Regions from separate parts of the Homo sapiens genome. Here all the other regions are reported to be linked to region 1. The links are microRNA targets in miRTarBase. Many come from high-throughput screens and were not tested one by one. Region 1 holds a microRNA gene; each other region holds the end of a gene's coding sequence.
Evidence for each region. The annotated mature microRNA hsa-miR-576-3p reads AAGAUGUGGAAAAAUUGGAAUC and lies in region 1 at 1,430-1,451, shown strand. An mRNA with a match to its seed (bases 2 to 7 or 8) in the 3' UTR can be bound and repressed. Matches are read on the target gene's strand: a 7mer-m8 pairs with bases 2 to 8, a 7mer-A1 pairs with bases 2 to 7 and ends in A, and an 8mer does both.

Region 1 (3,619 bases):
ATTATGGCTAACAGACATAATGCATAAACAGAAGAAAAAAATGTAGTATTGGGTCAAGAGTCAGAAGTTTGGTGTAACTGCAAAATAAGGTAAAAGGGAGGATGGTAAAGGGACAGGTGAGAGATGCAGGTGGAAAGGACAAGTAGAAGCCAAATTTTGAAGTTTGTTTTATGACAGTGTGAAGGCATTTACACCTTATTCACTAAGATGGTGGGGAAATTAGTAAAGGCTGTTTCTAAGCATGTTCAGAATGTTAACACATAAGTTTTCAATCAGGTACTGTTTTATAAAAATACCTTTTTGATTTATTTGCCAGTAATGGCATGACCTCTGATTAATGCGTTACTTAGAACGCATTAATCTAAATAGCAAAATATCATGAGTCTGTTTAGCTTACTGATTTATTTGGGTTTATAACAATTATCATTGCTTTGATATTTTGACAGGTTCACAAATAGAGATTTGCAGTCATTTTTTCTTCTGAAAGTGAATTTAAAGTAAACTAGCAGATTTCAAACTATTCAGTAAACAAAATAGAATAAAAAAATTAATACTTTAAAACTTATAGCCTTATTAAAATGAACAATCTTTAAAATATTAACAGTTGATTTGACATGAAAGAAACTAAACATCTTAACTGAGTAGTAGTATGTTCTTTGGAATAAGTTCATATATAAGTAATCTTTTATCTTTGGACTTTATTTTTTTTCAAGAGTAGTTATTTCTTGATATATACATTTAAAAGTTTTTCTTAGAATGCCCATGATATTTTTAATAGCAGTTTTGAGAAATAATTCACATACCATAAAATTCACCTATTTAAGTTGTGCTGTTCTGCAGTTTTTAGCATATTCACAAAGTAGCAACCATCACTACTATGTAATTCCAGAACATTTTCTTCACCCCAAAATAGAAACTTCATATGTTTTAGCCTTCTTCCCATTCTACCCTCCCCGCACAACCACACGCAGCTCTAGGCAGCCATTAATCCTCTGTCTCTACAGGTTTGTCTATTTTGAACATTTTATATGTAGAGATCATATAATATGTGGTTGTTACTTGCATCTTTCTTTTAACATAATGTTTTCAAGGTTCATCCACATTATGGCATATGTCAGTACTTTATTATTTTTTGTTACCAAAAAATATTCCATATGTGAATGTATCACATTTTATTTATCCATTCATGAGTTGATGGACATTTGGGTTGTTTCTGCTTTTTGGCTGTTATGAATACTCCTGCTGTGAACATTTGTCAACAAGTTTTTGTGTAGGTTTATGTTTTCATTTCTCTTGAGTAGAATTGCTGGGTCAGAACTCTGTATTTAACTTTTGAGAAACTGCCAAACTGTTTTCCAAAGTAACTGCACCATTTTACAATCCAACGAGGATTCTAATTTCTCCACGTCTTTGGTAATAAGGTTTGGCAAAGATGTGGAAAAATTGGAATCCTCATTCGATTGGTTATAACCATCCTAGTGGATGTGAAATGTTATCTCGTTGTTTTGATTTTCATTTTCCTAATGGGATTGTGATGTTGAGCATCTTTTCATGTGTTTATTGGTCATTTGTTTATCTTCTTTGGATAAATATCTGTTCAAATCTTTTGCCCATTTTAAATTTGGTTATTTGTTGTTTTATTGTTGAGTTGTAAGAGTTTGTTACATATTCTGGATATTAACCCCTTATCAGATATATGATTTGCAAATATTTACTCTCATTCTGTGGGTTGTCTTTTTACTTCTTGATGATACGGTAACCTTTAGAGCACAAAAGTTCTTAATTTTGATGAAGTCCAAATTATCTTTTTTCTTTTGTTGCTTGTACCTTTGATGTCATATCTAAAAATTCATTTAGTCATGAAGATTTATTCCTGTATTCTAAGAGTTTTATAGTTTTAGCACTTACATTTTATGTCTATGATCCATTTTGAGTTAGTTGTGGTGTAGGGAAGGGGTCCAGCTTTGTTCTTCTGCGTGTGGATATGTCTAGTTGTTCCAGCACCATTTGCTGAAAAGAATATTATTTCCCCATTGAAATGTCATGGTAAATTGTTTAGTTTTATTAAGGAAAAATATGCATAACATAAAATTAACTGTTTTAAATTGTATAATTCAGTGGCATTTAGTACATGTACAGTGTTGTGCAGTCCCCACTTCTATTTAGCTCTATCTAATTTTGTGAAGTACTAGACATTTTCATCATCCCAAAAGAAAATCCTACACTCAGTCACTCCCCATTTTCCCCTCCCCTCAGCCTGGGTCTTTCATATAAATAGAATTATATATATTATATATTATAATATATATGGTATATATATGATATATATGGTATATATATGATATATACATGTGATATATACATATGATAATATATATGGTCTTTTTTGTTTGATTTATTTCACTTAAGCAAATTTTCAGGTTTCATTCACATTGTAGCGTGTATCCATACTTCATTTTTATGGCTAAATAATATCCCATTTTATAGATATACCATATTTTGTTTATCCATTCATCTGTTGATGAATATTTGGAGACTTTTGACCTGATATATCAGCATTCTGCTTTAGTTTAAAATTCACAAATAAAAGGAACACAAAGGAAAGGGCATTACTTTCCATTCTTTATTAAGAGGAAAAATATATGTGCAAAATTGTTCTACTTATCACGAAGAAGGCACTGCATAAATATTAGTGTCTTCTACCTATTACTTATTTAATGGGTGTCTTCATATCCACTGTCTCATTTAGACCTTATAAGAACATAAAAAACCACACATAGGACATTTAAAAAATCGTTAGCATTTTGCAGAAGAGTTATATAGCAAGTTACCTTCACTTATTCTTAGGAGAAAAGAACCACAAAGTTACATAGCAAGTAAATGATGGAGTTGATGTAACTGCAGTCTTTGCCTCCAAATCATGTTCTTTGCTGATAAGAAAATGTTCCTACACAAAAAACATCAGCTATTATGCCCTGAGTCGGTATACCTGATTCTCATGTTCATCTAAAATTATTCAATGAAAAATAATTATGCATACCTGTTCCTTCCCTATTACAATTGAAAATTAACCTAAATGTAGTTTAAACACCAGTTATAATACTGGTATTAATAGCAAGGGATAACCTCTGTAGCACAGAATTTTGTCTTACTGTGAAACAAAGCAAGATCTCTAACATAATAGAAGGATCATGCAGATTTTTTATTTTATTCATCATAATATACGCTAGCATACGTACCCAGGATAATTGTAGGTCTCAAAATATTTGTTGAATGAATGGAAGAAGTATATTGCTTGTTCTTTTCATGTGACCTGTGACCACATTTCATCATAAATTGTCACTGAACTCTCATCTTAACAGGTTTTGAATGAGCACACATAATGAAAATTCTTATAGTCTAACATTTATATGAATTAGTGTGCCTTTCATTTATATTACCTTATTAAATATGGCAGGTGTTATTTAATCTCTATTCTGCAGATATGTAAACTGAGACACAGAAAAGCTTAGTAGCATGCCAGATAGCAACCTAAGCCACAGACTCCTCATTTATGAATGTCTCAGTGTGCTATGATATAAATAAAAGTCATTAAAATTTAATTACCTTAAAATACCCT
Region 2 (3,619 bases), not on the chromosome of region 1:
GCCTGGCGCCGGCCCTCGGGAGGCACCGGGTCCCCGGGTCGCTTCAGAACCAGGAAGGGCCAGGCTCTGGGGGTGGCGGGACCGGCGCCCTCCGCTCGCGTGGCCTCGGGGACTCCTCGGGAGGTCCTGCCCCGCGGCCCAGAGTCGGACACACCCCCGGGGCAGGGCGCGGGCGGCGCCAAGACCCAGGCGGAGGCCGAGAACGTGGCCGGCCGCACGTAGGCCGGAGACCGCGCCGGGGAAGAGCGGGGGACAGACCCGGGGCAGGAGGCCGGGGCGGGAGGCCGGGGCGGGAGGCCGGGCCGGCCCGAGACCCGGGTCCCGGGGCTCGGCGGGCGCTCCGGAGAGGCCAGGGCGGAGGCGCCCTCCACCCCCTGCGCCGCGACGCGGCCGGGACCCCCGCCCACCTTGCGCGTCGCCGCCGCTGGTCAGGACGCCGATGGCCTTGCCCGCGCCCGACGCCCGCAGCTTCTCCAGGTCCACCGCGGCCATGGCGGCGGCCGAAACACGGGCCCAGCTCGCACTCCCGCCGCCTGCGCCGCGTCGCCGTCCCCGCCCCGCCCCGCGCGCGCCTTCCGCCCGCCCCGCCCCGGGCCCGCCCCCGGCGCCTCCTCGCAGGACGGACCCTGGACGGAGCAGGGATCCTGCGCCCTCGGCCCGCCGGGGCCACCTTCCCGCTGTGCGTTTCTAAACCTGTGCAATGTCACGCGGGCCCTGAGCAGTGAGACCCCCCCCTCCACCCCGGTGGTCTCGAGGATGTGGCCGGGGACCAGGGCGGGGCTGGCCCCAGTGCGGCCGCACGCGCCCCTTCGCCAGCGCCGAGGCCCCGGTGGCACGTCTGGCCCGGCTTCGCTTCTCCGGAGGTTCCTTGCTGTCGGCCGCAGCCACCGCCCCTCCCTGCCCCCCAGGGGCCCTCAGGGCGCCTTCAGGCCTCAGCAGAGCGAAACCCAAACGAGGCGCTGGCGGAAAGCAGCCAGCACTCCTCCCTCCCTCTCCCTCCTTTCCTCCCCTCCTCCCTCACTTTTGCTGGGCCCTTGGGGAAGTCTTGGTTCCCCGGGCCCTGGGGGTGCAGAGCCGGTGTTCGGGAGAGCCGCCTCGTGACCGCACGGTGTGTTCGGTTTGTGAAAGCTCAGCGGGCTGATCGCTAGGATTTGAGCATTTTTCTCTACATATACGGTGGAAATGGTGGCTGTGAATATCAACTACTCCTTATTTAATTGTGAAATGTTAGAAAACACACCGAGAGACTGCGCAAGCACATATGCGTGGGCTAAAAGGCGCTAAGAAGACACCTGTGTCTACCCCTGAGGCATCCTTGTGCTGACATTTTGGGTCATTATTCTCTCCCTTTTCTTACAGCTTCATCACGTGTGTGTGTGTGTGTGTGTGTGTGTGTGTGTAAATTCTTAAACGTACATGGTTTAGCCACAATGAGGTACCACCTCATACCCATTAGGATGGCTACTATAAAAGAAAAACACAGGCTGGGCGCAGTGGCTCACGCCCATAATCCCAGAACTTTGGGAGGCCCGTGGGGTGGGGGGGGGGGGGGGGGGTGGATCACCTGAGGTCTGAGGTCAGGAGTTCGAGACCAGCCCAGCCAACATGGTGAAACCCCGTCTCTACTAAAAATACAAAAATTAGCCGGGCATGGTGGTGTGCGCCTGTAATCCCAGCTATGCAGGAGGCTGAGGCAGGAGAATCACTTGAAGCCAGGAGGCAGAGGTTGCAGTGAGTGGAGACTGCGCCATTGCACTGCAGCCTGGGCAGCAAGAGCGAAACTCCGTCTCAAAAAAAGAAGAAAAGAAAAGAAAGAAAAATGCAGAAAATAGTAATTGTTTCAAGGATATGGGGAGGCTGGAACCCTCATGCAGTGTTGGTGGGGATGTGAAATGGTGTAGCTGCTGTGGAAAACAGGATGGCAGTTCTTCAAAAAATTAAAAATATAATTACCATGTGATCCAGCGATTTTACTCAAAGACTCACACAGATATTTGCACACACATATTCATAGCAGCATTACTCACAACAGCCAAAAGGTGGAAGCACCCAGGTGTCTGCTGAGGAAAGCATAGATGAACACAATGCAGTCCATCCATGTGCTGGAATATTACTCAGCCTTAAAAAAGGAAGCAGATTTCGGCACATGCTACAACATGGATGAACCTTGGGGCCACCATGCTGAGTAAAATAAGACAGACACAAAAGGACAGATACTGTGTGATTCCACTTCCATGAGGTCCCTGGAGAAGTCATAGAGACAGAAAGTAGAGTGGAGGGTGCCAGGGGTTGGGAGGGGAATGGGGAGTGAGTGTTTCATGGGGCCAGAGTTTCCATTCAGGAAGCTGGAACAGCTCTGCAGATGGTGGTGGCAATGGTTACATGAGATGTGAATGCCACTGAACTGAAAAGTGGTCGAGATGATAAATTTATGTTATGTGGTTTTTTTGTTTTGTTTTGTTTTTGAGACGGAGTCTCACTCTTGCCGACCAGACTGGAGTGCAGTGGCGCAATCTCAGCTCACTGCAACCTCCACCTCCCGAGTTCAAGTGATTCTCATGCCTCAGGCTCCCATGTAGCTGGGATTACAGGCACCCACCACCACACCCAGCTAATTTTTATATTTTTAGTAGGTCACCAGGCAAGGAGAGGCTCCCGGGGACTTCCAGAGTAGAGAAGTGGGGCAGGGTTTAATTTCCAGGCACATGATGGCTGGTGTCCCCAGAAACACAGAGCTGTTTACAGCCGAGCACTGACAAGAGGTGGCGCTGTCCCCTTCTTGATCCCAGCCGGCCGGCTTCCAGGACTGAGGAAGGAGGTGTCCTTCTCAGCACTCTCTCATCAGAGCTGCATGTCCCGGCCATCTGGGGTCAGGAGGGGAAGGGGGCCGCCGGACGGGCCATGCTCTGGATGGCCCACTGCAGGATGCCATCGAAGGTGTGCTGCGGGACAGAGTGACGGTGAGAACCTCCAGGTGCGCCCCCGCCGCAGCCACAGAATCATGGCCATCGTTACAAGAAGTCACCATCCAACCTTCCCTCTAAGTCAAAGGTGGGGAAACTGAGGCCCGAGGCCCCATGGCACAGGCCAGTCTGGGGAGGACCCTGTCCTGTGCACTTCACCGTATTCCATCAAAGGTGGGGAAACTGAGGCCCAAGGTCCCCATGGCACAGGCCAGACCGAGGACCCTGTCCTGTGTACTTCACCACATCCTATAAGCCCAGGGCACATCCCCATGGCAGTTCATGGCAGTTCTGCCTCCTCGGGTGGCTCCTTCAGGGTGGGGGGGTCGGGGCCAGCTACTTATTCTGCTCAGGAGCCTGATGCTCCCACAGGATGGGGCCACGGGCCCCACGATGCCAGCAGAATAAGACCGCCACCCGGGAGAGGCTGTGAGCCCGTCGCTCATTTCTCCAGCTATACCCGGGGACCCCATCCAGAGGGGCAGCTCCATTACCCAGCGCTGGGCCCCCTGGCCCACTCTCAGGCCCTGGGGCTCTGCAGACACCTGCACGGTCAGGGTGTGTGGGGCACGGCCACTGCACAGGGCAGAACCCCTGCCCCATGGTCAGCTGGGACCCCCGGGTGCCACATCAGACACTGAGGAGAACCCGTGGAG
Region 3 (3,619 bases), not on the chromosome of region 1:
TAGCATGGTGGGCTTTGGGGAGGGGAAGAGGGAAAAAGGAATAGGGCTCATGTGGCTGGCTTTTAGGGAGGCAGGTGTGAGAAATACTAACAACTTACAGCTCTTTATAAAGCAAAATGAGATGAAATCCCTCCCCCGCCCCCCCAATTCTCACTCCACAAACCTATGCCTTTCGGTTCTCCCTTCCCCTGGTAGGCCTGGCTCCTTGCCTGGCATTACCATGCACCACGAATGCAGGCAGGAGGCCCCAAACACCCAGACACGGTGTCAGTTCTACAAAACTTTCCAAGTTGGCAGAAGGAGAAGCCACTGCCTCCTCCGGTTTGGAGGCCTCAGGGGAGGTGTTGTCTAGACCGCCCAATCCACTATCCATTCACAAGCCAGTCAGCAACTACCACTTGCCAGAGTCCCTGCCACCACCTCCCACTCTGTGGGGACAACAGCATCCACTTCTTCCACAACAACGAAACAACAAAGATAAAGCATGGCACCTGTCGTCATGCTTGCCACCTTTCAGCACCTCTCGGCTCAGCATTCTGAAAGCCGGGAACTCATCTTTAAAGGAGGCCAGGACTTGAATACAAGCAAGAAAATGGCATAAAATGAAGGAATTAGCCACTCGAGGTTGAAAACACACTTCCCTAAAATGACAGCAGCATTTGGAGCTGCAGGTGGGAGCACACAGCCTACCTCTAACTGGCCTGTCAGAACAGACACGTTTTCCCGTTCTCATTTTGTGTTTCCTTAAACCAACTACTAACTTCTGGCAGAGGTGGTGACTGCCTGGGAAAGATGCCATCCTCATCTGGCCCCCTTATCTATCAAGATGCAAACTAATAAAACCAGCGGGCGGGACACCCATTTAACCTGAAACCTCCTCTTTTGTTAAAAATGGACTGAATGTGTCTTCCGGTTAATAATAAACTTTGCTGGGCACTGGAATAACCACCAGCCTCCTCAACCGTGGCTGCTCTCAAAAGCAGATGTGGTGTTCCCTGTCCCGAGAAGGCTCCAGAGTATTTGGATTAAGGACCTGGATATGCAGATCCTACTCTTAAGAATTAACATTTCCTCCCTACCCCTCAAATGTAAAACTGGAAAAATTAAGAACTCTGTATTTTGCATTGCATTCTCTTAAAAATTCTGTTAAAAAAATCTCTTCACAGACTGGGTGTGGTGGCTCGTGCCTGTAATCCTAGTACTTTGGGAGGCCAAGGCGGGCGGATTGCCTGAGCTCAGGATTTTCTGGGCTGAGGCTAATATTGCATAACTTTATCACATACTTGTCAACTTCTGCAGATGTACACAATGTGCATTTCACTGCTTATAAATTTTACCTCAAAAGGAAAACAAACTAAACAGGTATTAAACTCTTATTGCATAAATAATAAGAGGCATTGGAGGATGAATGGAGAGAGACGGTGAGGAGCCAAGTCCAGAAAGGGGGTAGCGGTGCCCAGGTGCTGCACGCACCGCTGCGTCTGCACATTCATGTGATGAGGGGTGGGTGACGGTGCCATGTAGTTTATAGTCTTAAGGAAATTAACAGCTCCCTCTTCCAAAGCGAGGGAACGAGAATCCCACACCTTGAGAAACACAGGGCTTTCTACGGTGACTCCCCGAATGGCTCTGCAGCTTAAAAAGCTCCAACACATAAACTCATCAAGTAGGGTGAAGAATGAGGTGACACCAAGTTTGCTAAATAGTATTGTTTATTAAGGCTTGTATTCTCCTAGAGGAAAAACCCAATGTCGTCCAGGACTCCATTCAGGCAGTAACAGTTCAGAGGAAGTGACACGCTCTAAATACAAGTCTAATGATACAGCTGAAACGTTAACTCAGAGGGTCTTTTGGAGCAAGTAGTTTTCAGAAAGCGTCTGCTCTCTAGGACGGTAAGGATCCTCTACAAGGGCACGTGCAGATCCAGGCGCTGGAGCGTCAGGCATGGGCACCATTTTCATGCTTCAACTCAAACTCCAGGTGGTAGTGAGCTCAACGGTCCCTCATTCCACAAAACATGACAGCAAATTCATCTTCTAAAAAAAGTTTTGTTTTGTTTTTACCCATTCAACAGGAAAAAAAATTAGACACACACGATGAAATTTACAACCAGCAGCATCATCCATCACACTGTCTGTACTACCAGATCCTACACTTAAAGCTCAGCATTATTGGTATAAAAACTTAAGACGGCATTAGAATTCTTAAGAAAAGGTGTAAAATTTAAAAAGATGTGCAAACAACAAAGAATGCCCGACCCTGAACCAGACCTAAAGCACCTTCCAGTTCCTCCACACATCATGCCCCAACACCATCCAGCCCAATCGGACACCAGGACAGTGAGGGACGGGTGGCTGTTCAGTGGGCAACAGATCTGGAAGGAAAGATTTTCAAAAAAAAAAAAAAAGTGTCTGCCAAATTTGAAAAATTAAAAGTTATCTGTCTAGCAGAAAAATCAAATGGGTAAATTAGCACTTTAGACCGATAACAGATAATAAAATGACAAATCAGAATGAACAAAAAATCATTAACCTTTTGATTTCAGTATTTTCAAGAGATTTTATCAGAATACTCTAAATGACAAAATGACTCATGGTTTCTTATGTTTGCTAAAAAGCAATAAAGGGATGAGAAATATGAAGTCTCACAGAATATCAAATGACTGAATTTAAGAACACAATTTCTGCCAAAATAGATGCTTTGTTTTTAAGGATACTTACATTTCACATTAGATCAGTCTGATTGATAAGCTGACAAAAAAAATACTCCTTTATTAGTGACTTCTACAGGATTATAATACATAGAAAAAGTACAAATAAATGCAGATCCATCTGGGCAAAAATCAACGACAAGAAAGGCAAAGATGCAACACTCAACCCCCGCACGGGACGACACACTGGAGCTGACCAAGCACACGTGTTTTAAACTGTTTTCAAAGTCAAACGTTAGAACATGTAAGAAACTGGTTCGCCCTCATTGTTTGTTTCGACTCTGCCGTTCCTGTAAAAAGAAAAAACAAAAGTTGAACGCAGAGTAACCACACCAATGAATCCCTCCCAAAAGTGAGATCCGAGGCTGCCCCTTAGCAGCACCTGCAAATCTGGAGGCGGGACCCTGAATGGTACCCAAGCCACACCAGCACACAACTCTGAGCTGCACTGGGGCCTGCTCTGTGGGGGACTGGCCACACTGGGCATGGCATTCTCCCCACCCCCTCTACCAGGAGAAAAGCATCAACCACAACGGTCACATGGGCCACCTGTCTGCTGGGAAGCCTCACTTCCCACAGCTGTCTTTCCCTCATGTGCCACTATCATTCCACATGGAAAGACACTTAGCAATGTGAAATTCTCTGCACTCAGAGGGAGGAGCTGGCACGCACCAGGCTCTCAAGGAGGCCAGGGAGACAGAAGCTGTTCTTCTGTATTTTATCTCATTTAAACTTCTCAGTGGCACAAAGGACACCAAAATCCTTCCAACTGGCTAACAAGGTGCTGTGTCATGTGGCTAATGAAGGGCAGGAGGACCGGTGTGGGCCTGTCCAGTTCAGGCCCTTCCCACTCCCCAGCTCACTCCCACGCCAAGGGGAAGAGCATGCCCCTCCCCACTCCCCCACGGC
Region 4 (3,619 bases), not on the chromosome of region 1:
GGCCTCAGAGCAGGACAGGCAATCCTGGACAACCTTGGCCCCTTCTCGAAGCTGGCCAGCCCCTTGTTCCCTAATCTCAGTGTGTGTGCGGAGCTTCTCGAAGCTGGCCAGCCCCTTGTTCCCTAACCTCAGTGTGTGTGTGGAGCTATCGGCAAGCCTTGCAGTGAGAAATGAGTGTCCGCTGGACTTGTTCAACCCTCGGGCTGTCGCCGTGCCCGCTCTGCTCATGGGCGAGCCTCGGGTGGGGAGCCCCTGACAGACTGACCTCTCCCATCTTCTCTCCAACCTCAGGTGCCCCCGGCCCTCCAGGACCAAGAGGATTCAAAGGAGATATGGGCGTGAAAGGGCCTGTTGGCGGCAGAGGCCCGAAAGGAGACCCCGGCAGCTTGGGCCCCCTGGGACCCCAGGGTCCTCAGGGGCAACCTGGAGAGGCCGGGCCTGTGGGAGAAAGGGGCCCTGTTGGCCCTCGAGGGTTCCCAGGCCTCAAAGGCTCAAAGGGCAGCTTTGGAACTGGAGGGCCGAGAGGACAGCCAGGCCCAAAAGGGGACATAGGGCCCCCAGGGCCAGAAGGGCCCCCGGGGTCTCCAGGGCCCTCAGGGCCTCAGGGAAAACCGGGAATTGCAGGGAAGACAGGGTCACCAGGCCAGCGGGGGGCCATGGGGCCTAAGGGTGAACCAGGGATCCAGGGTCCCCCTGGTCTCCCGGGGCCTCCAGGTCCACCAGGAAGCCAGAGCTTCTACTGAGGAGGGCTGTGGCAGAGCCACTGTCACACAGAATGCCGGAGGGGCGCAGAGCAGATCCAGGCCCCAGAAAGCCTCACCTACAGACAGCTGTGGTCCTCTGATTCCAATGAGGGGGCTCCCCAGGGCTGACCCTGCAGCTTTGGGCTCCCCCATAGTGACTGTGCCATAGGAAAGCAGCCCCTCCTCACACATACATGTGCACATGCACACACATGCATGCACACACATGCACACATACACGCACATGCACACATACACATGCATGCACACATACACAGGCATACATGCATGCACACACACATGCACGCACACACACATGCACACATACACGTGCACACATACACAGGCACACATGCATGCACACATACACATGCACACACACATGCACACATATATGCACAGGCACACACATGTACGCACACACACATGCACTGCACACATATCCATGCACACAAACACATATATACACATGCACATACACAGATTTTTCTGCTGGCCAGGTGGGCCAACTGGGTTTCCCTGGCTGGGCAGGAGGAGAGGGCAGAGGAAGACCCCCTCTCCTGTGACTGAGCCTGCCAGGGAGGCAGCTACCTCGGGAGGAAGGTCTCACATCTGTCTCTGGGCACCCATGCTGGCCAGCAGTTTCCCAGGGCTCCCTGGGGTTGAAAAGCCCCAAGGAAACCTTTGCGGGTGGGGCGTTACTGCCAAAACTCCAGAGGCAAAGTGGACCTGGCAACCACAAGACCCTCCCCATAAGCAGGGGACCAGCATACCCGGGAGCTGTCCCTGTCTGTCACAGCACAGTGGGGCCACGAGGCTGACATTCTCTGGCCTTGCACACAGTGCCCCCTGAGAAGTTCAACATTTATTTCTTCACGTGTCCAGAAAATTCCTCAATTCATCCTTGCCTCTGCCCTTCAGGAGCAGCCTGGAAGGAATCCAAGCAGGAGTTTCATCTGCATGGGGGCACTCTGCAGGCCCTGGAACATTGGGCCTGAGTGGAGATGGGAGACAGAGGCAGGCCAGAAGGTTCTCTCTGCACAGCTGCCTCCCTTGCTCTCCCTGAGGCTGGCCTGCCCCATTCCCCAAGGGGGCTCCTCTGGAGTGGTGGGGAGGATTAGGCTGCAGAAGGGCCAACCCCTTGCAACAGGGCAGCTCTCGCCTCCCGCACACGGCTCTCCTGATCACAGCTGCATGCCGACCTTGTCCCACCGGGACCCACAATGGCCCGAGCCCTCTTTGCATGGGCAGCCAGCTGGACTAGGAGTGGGAAGGGCCTGGACACTCACAGAGGCCCCCTCTGTCATCACTCCTTGGCACCCACCAACTTCCTGCACACACTGGCAGAGAGGGGCGCTGGGAAATCACCCCACAGGGTGGAGGTCTCCTGTTGGCTACACTCTAAAGCTGCTTTGCCTTCATGTTCAAACAGATTCAGGCACCACCCCCTCCACCGCCCGCAAGGTTAGGGCATAGAGTTGTCTCCTTCCCAACACGGACCCAGAGAGCAGCCCTTCCCTGCTCAAAGCCTTTCCGCACCCTCCTGACTGTCCTGGATGTGCAACTGGTTTGCACTGCACACCCCACGGCCATGTAACTCTCCTGTCCACATATGATAATACCATTCTGCATAGTATTACTGACTCAGTAAAGAGCTATTTCCAGGAGTGAGGTGTCTTTGAGTCCTTTCTGCCTGACTTGGGGGCATGATGCCTTCAGGGCTGCACTCCAGGTGGGCCTCTGAAGGAGAACCAGTGACGAGGGTCCCCCAAAAATTCAATCTCACTGGAGTTGGGTCTAACCTCATTTTAGAAACACTGAGTTCGGCCAGGGACCAAGAGCGTCTGAGGGAATTACTCAGAGAGAGCAGGAACAGAGGGGGAAATGCTAAGCCCAATGCATCTTGCAGCCTGGCCCTGGAGCTCTTTGGCTAAAACAAGATTGGAAAACAGGGCAGGCCTGGACATGTGAGTGATACCTCCTGCTTCTGGCTTTTGTCTCCAAGACAAGGAGATAGAACAGGAAAGGAGGCAGAGACCAGGCCAGACCTGCCCCAAGGGGCCTGGCTTGGCAGGGTCTGCGGATTACGGAAGAGGACAGCCGGATCCTCTGTGAGTCGGCACAGCAGCCTCACTCACTGGCAAAATGTGACCTAGTGCAAGCCTGGAGCCCTGTTTTTTGGGTTTTTTTGGAGTTTTTTTGGTGGGTTGGTGCTTAGTTGAGGAAGTGAGCAAAAGGGCAGGGGGTGAGGATGGGGCCAAACATGGCTGCCTCACATGGACCTCACCGCTTCCTCTATAGTGAGTAGCATGAGGTCCCTCCTCCCCACTGACATCTGAGATGTCCACAGCACCTGACAATGTTCAACACACCATAAACATCAGCCATTGTCACGGTGGGACTTATTATATGGGTGAAGAGCCTCCTGGGCCACAGTGGGTGTGCTCTGTGCTCCTCTGCAGGTGAGTAGCCAGCACACCAGCCCCTGCATGTCTCATTTCACGCTCCCTGAACTGTGAGAGCTGGGAGGGACCTGGGGGAGTCTGAGGCTCAAGTCTCTTACTTCTCATGGGACAAACCAAGGACTGAGAGCAGTTGAGGGGTTTGCTGCACATCTGGGGCTGGAACTCCAGTCTGGTGTCTCTGGCTAGTGGTAGATCCAGTTCTCAGGCTACTTTCCTATTGGTGAGGGTCCTCAGGAAGCCTCCTACCACATATTTCTTGGGAAGTGTTCCCGCCCCAATCCTGTTCCCTGTCGTAAGTCATCAAACTGCTCTTAGTATTAATGTGGCCCTTTGGAGTATCTGGACAGCTCTAGGTACTACTGAAATCCAAACAGCGGAACCTGGGGTTTAAGGGGACAGACAGTTAGAACT
Region 5 (3,619 bases), not on the chromosome of region 1:
GTGCTGGGATTCCACTTGTGCTGTGATTATAGGTGCAAGCCATTGCCCCCGCCTCAAACATCCATTTCTGTATGCAACTTTTGTATTTTTGGAGAGAGAGTCAGTCACACATACGCTACTCCATCATAGCTTGAAGAAGGCCATTACTATTAGCCAGGTGTGGTGGCACATGCCTGTAGTCCCAGCTATTTGGGAGGCTGAGGTCCCCGGGAGCATCACTGGTCCCCGGGAGTTCAAGACTGCATTGAGCCATGATCGTGCCACTACACAGCCTTGGTGACAGAGTGAGACCCTGTCTCAAAAAACAACAGTAACATAAATAAATAAAAAGAAGGCCATAATACACGCCTCCACATAGAAATTATCCTAAACACCAACTTTACTATATTGTAAACAAATATCCCCAAGGACTTCGCTGTCAAATGTGAAAAGTTTCTTTATTTCTACAGAAGGTATTTCTCTTGAATACTATTTTTAAATTCTTGTGACTTTATAGTTTTCTGTGCTGTCACTTTTTTCTGCTTTTAATAGTAGTTTTCTTTTAATTTGCTACTTTCAGTTCATTGTGTTAAAAATGTTACCAGGTTTTGTGATTGGTTAAATACTGGTAAGTAAATTTCACCTGAGTGAATTGGATTTTACATTTTCTTTTCTGAAGGTATCTTTACATATAAAGATTATAACTTGCATTTATTTATAAAAGAGAGTAACATGGATTCTTTTCTTTTTGCAGAAAATGGTGTGAATGGAACATTAACTTCAAATGTAGCAGACTCTCCCCGGAATAAAAAAGAGAAATCTTCATAATGAATTATAAACTAATTGATTAATGTCCCCAAAGAAATCTGCTTTCTACTATATCTTTCAGCATTAGAGATTTTTCTGTTCTTGAAAATACAGTCTGTGCTCTTTGATTTTTGCTATTGTACGGTTTCATGCATTTTTTTAAAGGGCATTTGAGGGGAGGATTATTGCTATGAATGAAAAAAATATTTTAGCTTAGACTAAGCTACCTGCCTTCAAAATAGTTTAGGGACCACCACCATATTTTATTTTGTTTTTATTTTTGAACATTTTTCTAATGATTTGGAGAGAAAACTATTTACAAAAATTCCACATATCAGTGATACAATTTCTTGCTGTCACCAATTTTTTATAATAGCAGAGTGGCCTGTTCTAAGAAGGCCATATTTTTTAAGTTATCTTTCAGGGTAACATGGAAATACTATAAAGTTGGATGTCAAACTTTAATATGTTTTCAGTGTTCTCTAATTTTTTGGAATTTTTGTAGACTTTACACCTGGAAAAAAAGATTTGTAAAATCACCGGAACAATTGTGTGCTTTATTTTATAGGTAGTGGTTATTAGTATTACATCCCCATTTTAAAAACAAAAACATAATAATCGTTACAACACGTGGAGTTTTACTAACATACATATTAAATCAAAGTATATTCTTAAAAGTACTTGTGAAGTAAAATCTTTCTTGTGCATTTTCAATACTTGTAAACTGGAAATCAGAAAATATTTACTATGAACAGGAAAATCTGACATATAGCCCTTTTTGATATGTTTATTAATAATGATTCTTAATGGGGCTCATAATAAGTTTAATATGCACAGCATCTTAGAAAAGTTTAACCTGCAAACACTTTTAAAACATAATGCCTACTTGATTTATATCTATAAAAAGACTGACAGGTAATTATATTTGGAAAACATTTAATGCACTAACTTTAAAGAAATTGAAAATTCAGGTGGATAAATAGTCTTACAAAAGACAATGTGCTTTATGTTATACCTATAGCTTTGGTCCCATCTTTAATTGAGAAACATTTATCTGTATAAAACATATTTTTGGATAAATATATATATATATATTTGTATCTCTACAGAAAGGCTCTAAAAAGCATTTGAGGAAAATATTTGGTTCCCTTTTCTATAATCATCCTTTAAGATTCTTATAGCTACATTTGGTTTATTCATCATATTTACAGTATATATATTGTTCTTTTCAGTGTTCACATCTTGTTCCCCATTTCTCACTTGTGTCACCAGCTGTTTGTGCCATTTTTAGTGTAAAAGTTGCAGACCTATTAGATCTGCAGTTTAAGTTGCCATGCTGCTAGGAAATTGTCCTTTTTCTTTCTAGCTGTTAACCTACTTCCTGGAAAAAGTAGTAGCTCTCTGTAGCATTATGGAGTTTCAGTGGAACCAAATTTTTGCCATTAAAAACTGGCATTATACTGAACTATACATTGAGAAATCAATCAAAATAAAAATTTTTACTTTCACAAGTTGTATCCTGGATGTTTCTGTCATTGTTGGTGTTTAGGCTATTTTGGTATATAACCTCATTAAAATGTACCATATTTAAAACACTTCATAGACATTCAGAATAACCCTTTTCAAAATTGTGTTCTGCAAATAAACAGATTTGTTCCACAGAATATTGGTGAGGACTACTGGGGGGATAGATGGTCATAACCAAATAAATCTGGGAATCACTGGATTAAACTAACCTAAAGGTGTCTCTTTATTATGGGACCGTTCAGTCCTTAATATGCAAACGTGTTTCCTGGTGCACCAAGAATGTTGGATATAATATGCAGTGTTTCCCACCTTATTTGCCTGTAGAATTTTCTGTTCACTGAATTACTATAGCACTTTGTTTTCTGCAGCATACACTGTGTTTAGGCAAAGAAAAAAAAAAGCCCTTGACATGTCATTACCAAGGGCTAATATATACACAGAAGCACATATACACACAAGTATGATTATAAATTATGAGCCCTACATCCTGCTCTCAAATGTGCTGAGGAAAGTCTGTACTGGCTTCCAGATCCTGCAGAGCCTGCCATTATCACCTGGGCTCAAGTCGAGCTTCAAAGCATGATGGGAATCCTGTAGGGACCCACACCTGGACAAGGCTCATGGCTCTGTCTTAAACCCGGGGGGACCATGAATTAGTTGCTTTGCTACTCTGGGGTTTAGTCTTTCCCTCCACAAAATGCCTCCTGCATTTTTTTTAACTGTAAATTGACAATTTATAATTGTACGTGGGGGTACAAAATGGTGTTATGATTTATGAGTATAATGGAATAATTAAGCTAGTTAACATCCATCACCTCAAACACTTAACATTTTTTGTGATGAGAACATGGAAATTTAGTTTTGAAATGTATAATGCTGTTATTAACTATATTTACCATGCTGTGCAGTAGAACTAAAAAATTCCTTCTGCCATATTTTACACCCTTTGACCATCATCTCCCCATTCCTCTCAGCCCTGAGCCTTTGTAACCGTCATTCTACACTCTGATTCTGTGAGTTTGTTTTAGATTCCATATATAAGTAAGTATGTGCCATATTTGTCTTTCTGTGTCTGATTTACTTCACTTAGCATAATGTTCTTCAGTTTCATCCATGTTGTCACAAATGACAGAATGTCTTTTTTAAAGGCTGAATAGTATTCCATTGTGTATATATACCCCATTTTCCACATTTTCTTTAGCCATTCATCTGCTGATAGACATTAGGTTGATTCCATAACTTGGTTATTGTAAATTTAGTGCTACAGTGAACACAGGGCTGCAAACATCTCTTCGACACACTGATT

Region 2: the mRNA of AIRE is a reported target of hsa-miR-576-3p. Seed matches in the 3' UTR shown: 7mer-m8 at 2,386-2,392.
Region 3: miRTarBase lists YTHDF1 as a target of hsa-miR-576-3p. Seed matches in the 3' UTR shown: 7mer-m8 at 2,230-2,236.
Region 4: the mRNA of SCARA3 is a reported target of hsa-miR-576-3p. Seed matches in the 3' UTR shown: 7mer-m8 at 1,351-1,357.
Region 5: the mRNA of TRAM1 is a reported target of hsa-miR-576-3p. Seed matches in the 3' UTR shown: 7mer-m8 at 2,023-2,029.

What each region holds. Positions count from the first base shown.
Region 1 is chr4:109,487,323-109,490,941 of GRCh38, forward strand. It overlaps MIR576 (microRNA 576), which reads left to right and starts at 1,376; the gene lies at 1,376-1,473. All of the region lies in intron 4 of SEC24B (SEC24 homolog B, COPII component), which reads left to right.
Region 2 is chr21:44,296,979-44,300,597 of GRCh38, reverse strand. It overlaps AIRE (autoimmune regulator), which reads right to left. Exons shown (of 14, transcript NM_000383.4): 14 at 1,950-2,942. The coding sequence ends at 2,871. PFKL (phosphofructokinase, liver type) reads right to left here and starts at 545. Exons shown (of 22, transcript NM_002626.6): 1 at 408-545. The coding sequence starts at 492. RefSeq lists silencers at 1-302, 323-992 and enhancers at 2,090-2,199, 2,530-2,589, 2,960-3,019.
Region 3 is chr20:63,193,735-63,197,353 of GRCh38, forward strand. It overlaps YTHDF1 (YTH N6-methyladenosine RNA binding protein F1), which reads right to left. Exons shown (of 5, transcript NM_017798.4): 5 at 1,695-3,000. The coding sequence ends at 2,974. Among named protein-coding and RNA genes, the nearest start is that of MIR124-3, 17 kb to the left of the region's middle. RefSeq lists an enhancer at 3,383-3,619.
Region 4 is chr8:27,670,609-27,674,227 of GRCh38, forward strand. SCARA3 (scavenger receptor class A member 3) reads left to right here. Exons shown (of 6, transcript NM_016240.3): 6 at 292-2,410. The coding sequence ends at 743. Among named protein-coding and RNA genes, the nearest start is that of MIR3622A, 29 kb to the right of the region's middle.
Region 5 is chr8:70,572,120-70,575,738 of GRCh38, reverse strand. TRAM1 (translocation associated membrane protein 1) reads left to right here. Exons shown (of 11, transcript NM_014294.6): 11 at 734-2,521. The coding sequence ends at 807. Among named protein-coding and RNA genes, the nearest start is that of TRAM1, 34 kb to the left of the region's middle.